Homo sapiens: one gene and its partner. The protein of the gene in region 1 purifies or fractionates together with the protein of each later gene. This does not show direct contact. Each region holds a gene or a part of one and is shown on either strand. Other genes may lie near its edges. The genes, in order: SFMBT2 and CASZ1.

Region 1 (3,811 bases):
GAGGCCGTGCCGTGGAAGCGGATGTACAGTTGATTACAAAGAACATTCCACAGGGTTCTCGAAGGGCCCAAGTTTTTCCTTCTGGTGGGGAGGAGGGAGGAGCCGAGACTGGGCAGGAGCCCGGCCGACCACCGCTCTGGCACCTAGGGGCTCGGGGCGCACCAGTAGCTGGGGCTGGGGACCTGGATGCGCGAAAAGCCGAGGGAGTTCCCGGGGACGCGGATGGGGACCATTCGGGGCAATAGCCACGGACACCGGTGCTCGTGGTTGATGGCGTTTGTGGTGTCCGAGAATCCCGGGACGACGCTGGAAAGCCTGGGAGACCGTTCTCAAACTTCTGGAGACCAGCTCGCAGTTTCGCTTTCGGAATTTTCAGGATCTTTGGGCCTTTAAAGTTGGGTGGGATTCCAAGAAGGCAAGGCGAGGCTCGTGGCCCTGACGATCGGCCGCCCGACTTCTCGCTCACCCCAGCCTTCTCTACCTTGTCTCCCTGAACCTTGCCGAACCGAGCCGGGTTTGGGGTTCCGGGGCCCCGCGCACCAACCCCAGCCGCGTCCTGAGGGCTCCCGCAGCACAGCCGCGGCTGATCCGAGGCCATTGGTGGGAAACCAATTTAGACGAGGCCGACCCCTCTTGGATCTGGCTCGGTTGCCGCTGCCCACCACTCTCCATCCCCCCTCCACTCTTGCACCGTAGAGAAGGGAACTGGGAGACCTACTAGCGTGTCTACACCAAGGGAAAGAACCCATGTTCCAGCAGGTCGGAGAAAAGGAGAAAACAGGCTTAAATGTGGCCTCGTTTCCTGGGGAGGCTGTTGGGGGTGGGGAGGGAGTTGAGCGGGTAAGTGGGGTGGGGGAGGGGAGAGGCGTTGTTGCTCAGCAGGAATTGTTCCCTAGGCCCGCCCTGGAGATAGGAGGTCTCCTGCTTTTTCCCTACTAAGCATTAAATTTGCACACACTCTGCTTTCTCCCTTCCATAAATAAATACCGTCTCAGATCTTATCTTTGCTCTTGCTGGGACCAAGCTGCCTGCCTGCAAGAGAGTGGGAGACACCCACGCACTTCTCCACTTCCCTCCCCCCCCGCCAACCCTCTAGGTCCCCACCAAAGAGTTTACTGCTTGCAGGACCCATTCTTGGGCCGGTGCAGAACACTGCCCCGAGCCGGGGGTCTCGCAGCCCCCATCCTGGAATAGAGAGTGGTCATCCACTCTGTTCTGATGTGTGTTGCTGTAGAAGTGCCGGTGGAGGCCTGCTGAGGTGGGAACTGTTTCCCATTTCCCATTGGGATACATCCATCCTGAACCTCAAACAGCAGGTCCTGCTGGAGATGCGTTTCAGTAATGATGGAAGTCATACATCGCAGAGTTTTTCCTCTTCCTGCGTTCTTGCAGACATTATAGACTATTTTTTTTAACATTGGTTGTTATAAATAACTGGCTTCACGATTCTTGACTTAAAAGTCAAGACTTTTAAAAAGCCAGAAAAGGTTCCTGACTCTTCCCTGTTTCGTTTTCATCATAAAGCTTTCCTGGGAGTACTAAACACTTATCCATTTTTCCATTGCTGCCCACTCTAGCTAAGGTGGCTTTTTTTTTTTTTTTTAACCACTGCCCCCAAAGGACTCCCACATTTGAGAAGAAATAGTGAGCGATGGAAGCATTGCTTTGAGCAGTAAGAAAATGAGGTTCTATGTAATTGATACAGGATACTTTTGGGATCTAAGAAGTCCGTAAAGGAAATTTACTCTCCCCAGGCCCTACACTTATGCCTAAAAATTTTTGTCAGATTATCAGAGTTTTCTTTTTCTTTTTCTTTTTTTAAATAATTTGAACAAAAATAGTTCACTGTGGGATTTGAATGACCTACAGTTCTAGTATACTAGGGTTGGACATTTCTCTCTTTATATTTTATTACTCTGTACTTTTGAGGTTCATGGGTGCAGTGGTCAGAAGGAAATTTTACTCTGCCCTAAAGTAAGAAGTCATAAAGGTTTTTGTACCAAAATGGCATTGGGACCTGTAATTCAGGATGCATTTTGTGGTTTTTCTAACCATTCTTATATCTATGTTGCCTCAGCAGCAACTTATTGCCCCCATCATACAAATTAAAAAAAAAAAAAAGTTGGGAAATTATGCGTCACAACAAACCAGGAAGTCAATGTGTGTATTCAGTTTGGTGATCCAGGATGTGTTAACACTAGCTGCTAAGGAAGATTCCTGACAGAGAGAGCGGGGGTCGGGGGGGGAATCGGGCCTAGTGTGTAGGTGGACATGGTTCTGTTCAGCTGTGGGATCTGGGACAAGTGAGTCATCTTTCTCAGCCTCAACCTCCTTATCTACAAAATAAAGGTGCTAGCCTGGAATGTCACTCAATGATCACTGTGCTTCTATCTGGGAAAAATACATCTGTGATTCAGTACATCTATGCAGATAGGCCCAAGAGATTCATCTTTCATACTCATGTTCCCCTAAAGGATAATGAAAACCTGACTGGCCTTAGGTGACATCCATGTGCAACCGTGCTTGTGAAGGCAGCAGCTGAGCTGTGGGTCCCTGCTGCAGAGTAAAGTGCTATTGTTAAGTGAGGTAAGCTCCACATGGGGTCGTGTTTTCATCTGTGCTCTGGAAAAGGCGAAGGGTAGAGAAGATGGAGGCTTATACATATGTGGCCTTCCCACATAACCCCATAAAGGTATGGACTGGGTTAGAGCAGTGTGCCTTTGAATACAAGCCATGAGGAAACACCTGATGTCATCTTGTTCTAATAATTTCCAGGCTCAAAGAGACTCTTCCAGATAGCACAGTGTACCCCACCATTCCAGATGGGAGGGTGCTTGGACCTCATGGGTCCATGTTTATGATATGGATGATGATTGCAGCCTTCTGGTAGCCAGCAAGTGAGTGTGAGCATCCACTCTGAAGTTCAAGGTTTTCCGTTCCTAGGGTTCAGGTTTGGCCGCTGGGCAGGTCTTCCTCTCTTTGTTAGACTAAAAATTTCTGGGACAATTCCTAAGAAAAATACTCTCGTTGGCTAAAACAAGTGTTGGCTCTATGTTTAAGTCAAGTGTAAATAAGATGTTTACAAGACTGTAAGACTGTATTGTAAGGAAGGGAAGATAGTCTGCTTAGAACTTTTAGTATAAGAAAGAATGTGTCACATGATTCATGTAATGTTTCCAAGTAAAATCCTTCAGGATTGGTTTTGCATGATCAGTTCATCACTGTGCTGATGAGAAGATGCCACCTTAACACTTCCCATCTGGTTGGCCTGTAGTAAATTTTAAAAAGCAAAAGCGGTAATATGTCAATATGCACTGATGGTTAGGGTCTCTCAGGTTATTGATGAGATGACACGTCTAGGCTTCCATTCATGTGATGAGATAGATGTCTTTGACATTGATTAAAGAAAGAATCCATTGCGTTTTTCTGTTTCATTCCTTTCTCATTTTCTGAAAAGCAAAAATGACACATTTTGATAGATCCAGGGCTTCCTAAGCATTTGGTGACTTCTGCAAAGTAGGACAAATAATGTTAGCAACTGTGATTAGACAGGAAGTGTATGGAGGTGTGGGACATGGGGGAGAAGCGGCAGGTTTTCATCTTGTGAGTTTTTCCCTGTAGTTTTATTGGCCAAGAAAAAGATGTCTTATAAACAGATATTAAGGTATGCCTTCCCTGCTTTCTGCCAAACTTGGCAAGTTGTTTTCTTTCCCCTCCATTTCAATCAACACTACTATATGAACTGAATACTTTAAGGTATGATACAAGAGTGTGGAATTCCAACTCTAGGTTCCTACAAAGTCTTGTTTTA
Region 2 (3,811 bases), on another chromosome or scaffold:
GCAAGAGGGCAAGTGGCCAAGGAGTGGATGCCACGGACCAGTGAGGCTCCTTCCCCACCGAGTGCCCGGCTGGGGCCCTGCGGCGAGAGGTCCGGCCCGGGCCCGGCCCCTCCTCAGGGCAGTCACTTGTGTACAGTAACCGAATTAATCTTGCTGTAGTCAAATGTATCATGTGAAGGGGAAAAATGTATTTGAGATGATGTATAATTTACAAAGACCCTGCATTATTTAAAATAAATATTCCGGAGCGACCTCTCCGGAAGGCGTCCGAGACCATTACTCAACCGGAAAAGTGGAAATTGATGTTTTGCTCCCACTTTAGTCCCCCCTCCCCCATCCCCTTTTAAACAAACAAAAAATATATATAAAATAAATAAATAAAATTAATAACGAGGCACGAACGAAGTTGAAGGGCTCTGGAAAAGCTTTTGGAGCCCTCCATCTGAAGGGAAAAAAAGGTGTCAGAGGCTGGAATATATTTCTTCAGCCAGTTCATTAAATTAATTTGTAAGCAGTGGCTCTGAAATTATATCCGATGAAAAATGGCCTCAAAATTTAAATGGTACAAACTCATCTTATTAGAGGCAAAACATTAAAAAACAAACACATCCCCCCACCCCCCAGCACAGCTTTAATTTCTCTGGGTGGGGGAACGGGAGGCGTGTGATGGATGGCTCTTACCTTATTCATAAGCGAGGATAAAAGAGATGAATTTGCCGGGACTGCGTGGCCATTTGATTCGTTGCTAGAACACACAAACCAAGGGACTTGAGCTCAGACGGCCGGGGCCTGGGCCCTGGGGCTCACCTTCCCTGCCCGACCCTGGGGCTCCAGCCGAGCCCGCTGCAACTGCCTGGGCGGGACCACCCCGGGGCTCCAGCTCGAAGGTGTGGTTCCCGGGGCTGGCTCCCATAGGGGGCCTCGCCTCACCTGGGCTCCTTCACAGTCAGGTCTAGACTGCGGTCCTGGGAGGCTTCGTGGGGGCCTGGGGCGCCGGTGCTCTCACCGGGTTCCGGCTTCACTTGGGCCGGGGGGAACCTGGCTGGGGTGACCTGCTGCCCGCTTCCTGCAGGGGAGGGGTGGGAAGATGCGTCAGAGGGGCTGAAGGCCTGGCCCGGGCACAGACAGCCGCCGTGCCCCCTGGAGGGAGGGCAGTGGGCTGGGTGGGCCCCGGCTACTGGTCAGCGCTTCTCCCGCTGACGTGATCGCTCGCGACGCTCGCTCCTGTGTGGCAATTCTTCAAGTGATAATTATTGCAAAATTATGTCAAAGTTGTCCTGGCTCAGGGCCTCCTGGAGGAGAAGGGCGGGAGGCTGGGGAGGGGGCTGGGGTGGGGGCGGGGGCCCTTCATTTTCTCCACCAACTGTCACAGTCGATTTGTGGGGCTGCCGCTTAGGCTTTTATTAAAGACTCTGTTAATGCTGAGGGAAAGTGGCAGATCTGGACTGGGAGGGCCCCTCTGTGGTCCCCAGCCCGCGGTTGCTGGGGTGACGGCCCCCGCACGGAGCATGCCCAGGAAGGGCCTCTGCTGTGTCAGGGCGATGGGGCCGATGGCCAATCAGAGCGGCCACACCGGGTGACCTCGCAGTCAAGCTATCCGGGGCAGGGACACGAGGCCAGGCTGGGCCGAGCTGGGTCCGGAAGGGAGCTGGGCGGGTGAGGCCGCAGGAGGCCAGCAGAGCAGGGGTAAAAGAAGTTGCTGACAGGGCCATCCAGCGAGCTTTCCCCTACAATCCCCCAGTGACGGAAATATGAATTTGCCCCAAGGTGCTGTAGCTGACAGAGTGCTGCTTCAGAAACAGCAAGTGGCATTTTATTAAAAAATAAAACGGCCCCCTCCCCTGTGCTTGATCTTTCTTTTGGGAGAAGGAGACTTTTCTAATGAAAACAAAGTACTTGACAGTCTGGCCACCGAGCCCACGTGGCCCTGGAGTGGGCCCTGCCCCATCCATCAGGCACCTGGCTGGAAGGGCGTGGCCAGCGAGGCCCCACCCATGCCTGGACCAGGAGGCGGTCCCTCCACGCGGCCACCGGGCATGAGCGTCCTATTGGGCCTGTGAGAGTTTTCAGACCTTGGGACTTCACATTCCAGCAGCTCTCCAAAGTCACCTGCCCAAGGTCCCAGGAAAACGGCCCAGCTCCCCTGCCAAGCACTGGCAGCCTCTGCAAGGTGTGGGCAGAGCCCCAGACTGGGCCACAGGGACCCTCAGTCTTGGCTGGTTCTGAGAGGGTTTCGAATGGGAACAGGGCATCTAGGCCCAGGAGCCCCACTCCTGCGGGCAGCGCCTTGGTTCACCACTTCCTAGCCATGTGCCCGGGACAGACCATCCCTGACCGTCTGCTGGCTCCACGGCGTGGGGCTCTGTCTGGCGTCCCGCCTGCTGTGTCCCCAGCACCCGGCTTGGAGCCTGGCTCTCAGCAAGCATCAGTGGTTGTTGAATGAATAAGTGAAATGAGCCACATCCCAGATGTGAACGGAACTCTCCTCAAGGATTCAACAAATAGGAACTACCCAGAGCAGGGAAACTGGGAGAGGAGTGAGGTAAACAGAAAACACCCTCACCCCAATCCAGAGAAAAATGGAGGGAAATTTTTTTAAAATGGATATTTATGAAATTATAGGAAGGCAGGAAAGAGAACTGCGCCCCTCAGTGAACCAGCGTGAAGAAGGAAGATGCAACTCCGGGGCTCTGGCCCTTTTCTGTCTGACGTGGCAGTCCCTGGCCAAGTGTGGTTGTTTAAAGTGACAATCCCGCTTCCCAATCACAGACCCAGCTTCAAGCACCAACAGTCACACGTGGCCAGTGGCTGCCAAGTCAAACACTGCAGAATAGAAGGCTTCCAAGGCCTGGAAAGTCCTACTGCAATGGCACTCATGGAGGAGGGAGCCTGGGAAGGGCGTCCCTGGGCCTGGAGGTGTCCAGGTGTGAGGTGCAGCCCCACTACCGCTGGGCTGGACGCAGGCCCTGCTCCAGGTCAGCTGGAGGAAACGCTCGGCACGCCAGGGGCCCTGGGCCTGCTCTTATCAGGGTGGACTTGGGATGTGGGAGGGTGAGCAGACAGGGAGGGGGGACCTGCAGTGGCCCCAGGGATGCAGGGCAGCCGAGGAGGCAGGGACCATCGCCCCCAGCTCACAGATGGGGAAACAGAAGCATGGCCCCCCTACTGTGGGGAGCCAGAACCAGGGGCCCCACATAGAAACCAACAGGATGGGGGCGAAGATCAGGCAAAGAGGGGGTGCTGGCAAGCAGGGGCCACACGGACACTTCTTCCAAACACCCCCCGACTCTGCTCTGCAGCCTGAGGCCAGGTGGCCACCCCAGTCCAGAAGGTGCCTGCTTTCTGGGCAGGACCCAGCCTGCTCACCTGGGTCAAAGGTGGCAGAGGGCTTGAGGGCAGCTGCAGCCAGCCTGGCCATCATGGGCGAGATGAGGCCCTTGCTTGCAGAGATCCTCTCCATGATGGAGGCGGGTGGTGCCGGGACAGAGGCGGCAGCCACGGGGGCTGAGTCTCCAGCTCCCGAGGCGACCAGCGTGGGTGTGTCAGGGGTGGCTGAGGCTGCTGACCCAGACGACACGGCACCCAGGAGGCTGGGGGTGCCCACAGGCAGGGAGGTGCTCCCACGGCCAGCCAGTATGGGGAAGTAGGGCGTGGGGGTGGGCAGGCCCGAGTTGGAGAGGGCCAGGGCCAGGGGGATTGAGCCAGGCAGGCCCTGGGGCAGCAGCCCCGAGATCTTGCTGTTGGGAGGTTTGGTGGCACTGGGCCCAGCCTCGGTGGCGGCAGTGGCGGCAGCCAGGGACGCAGAGGACTG

What was found.
Region 2: the proteins of SFMBT2 (region 1) and CASZ1 purify together in Homo sapiens (affinity purification with mass spectrometry; one large-scale study listed by BioGRID and IntAct). This does not show direct contact.

What each region holds. Positions count from the first base shown.
Region 1 is NC_000010.11:7,404,258-7,408,068, reverse strand, and holds part of SFMBT2 (scm-like with four MBT domains protein 2), read left to right. Parts: intron 1-2,322; exon of another isoform or gene 2,323-2,586; intron 2,587-3,811.
Region 2 is NC_000001.11:10,650,011-10,653,821, forward strand, and holds part of CASZ1 (zinc finger protein castor homolog 1), read right to left. Parts: coding exon 3,367-3,811; intron 1,067-3,366; coding exon 931-1,066; intron 746-930; coding exon 682-745; intron 1-681. UniProt on the Homo sapiens protein: Transcriptional activator. Involved in vascular assembly and morphogenesis through direct transcriptional regulation of EGFL7.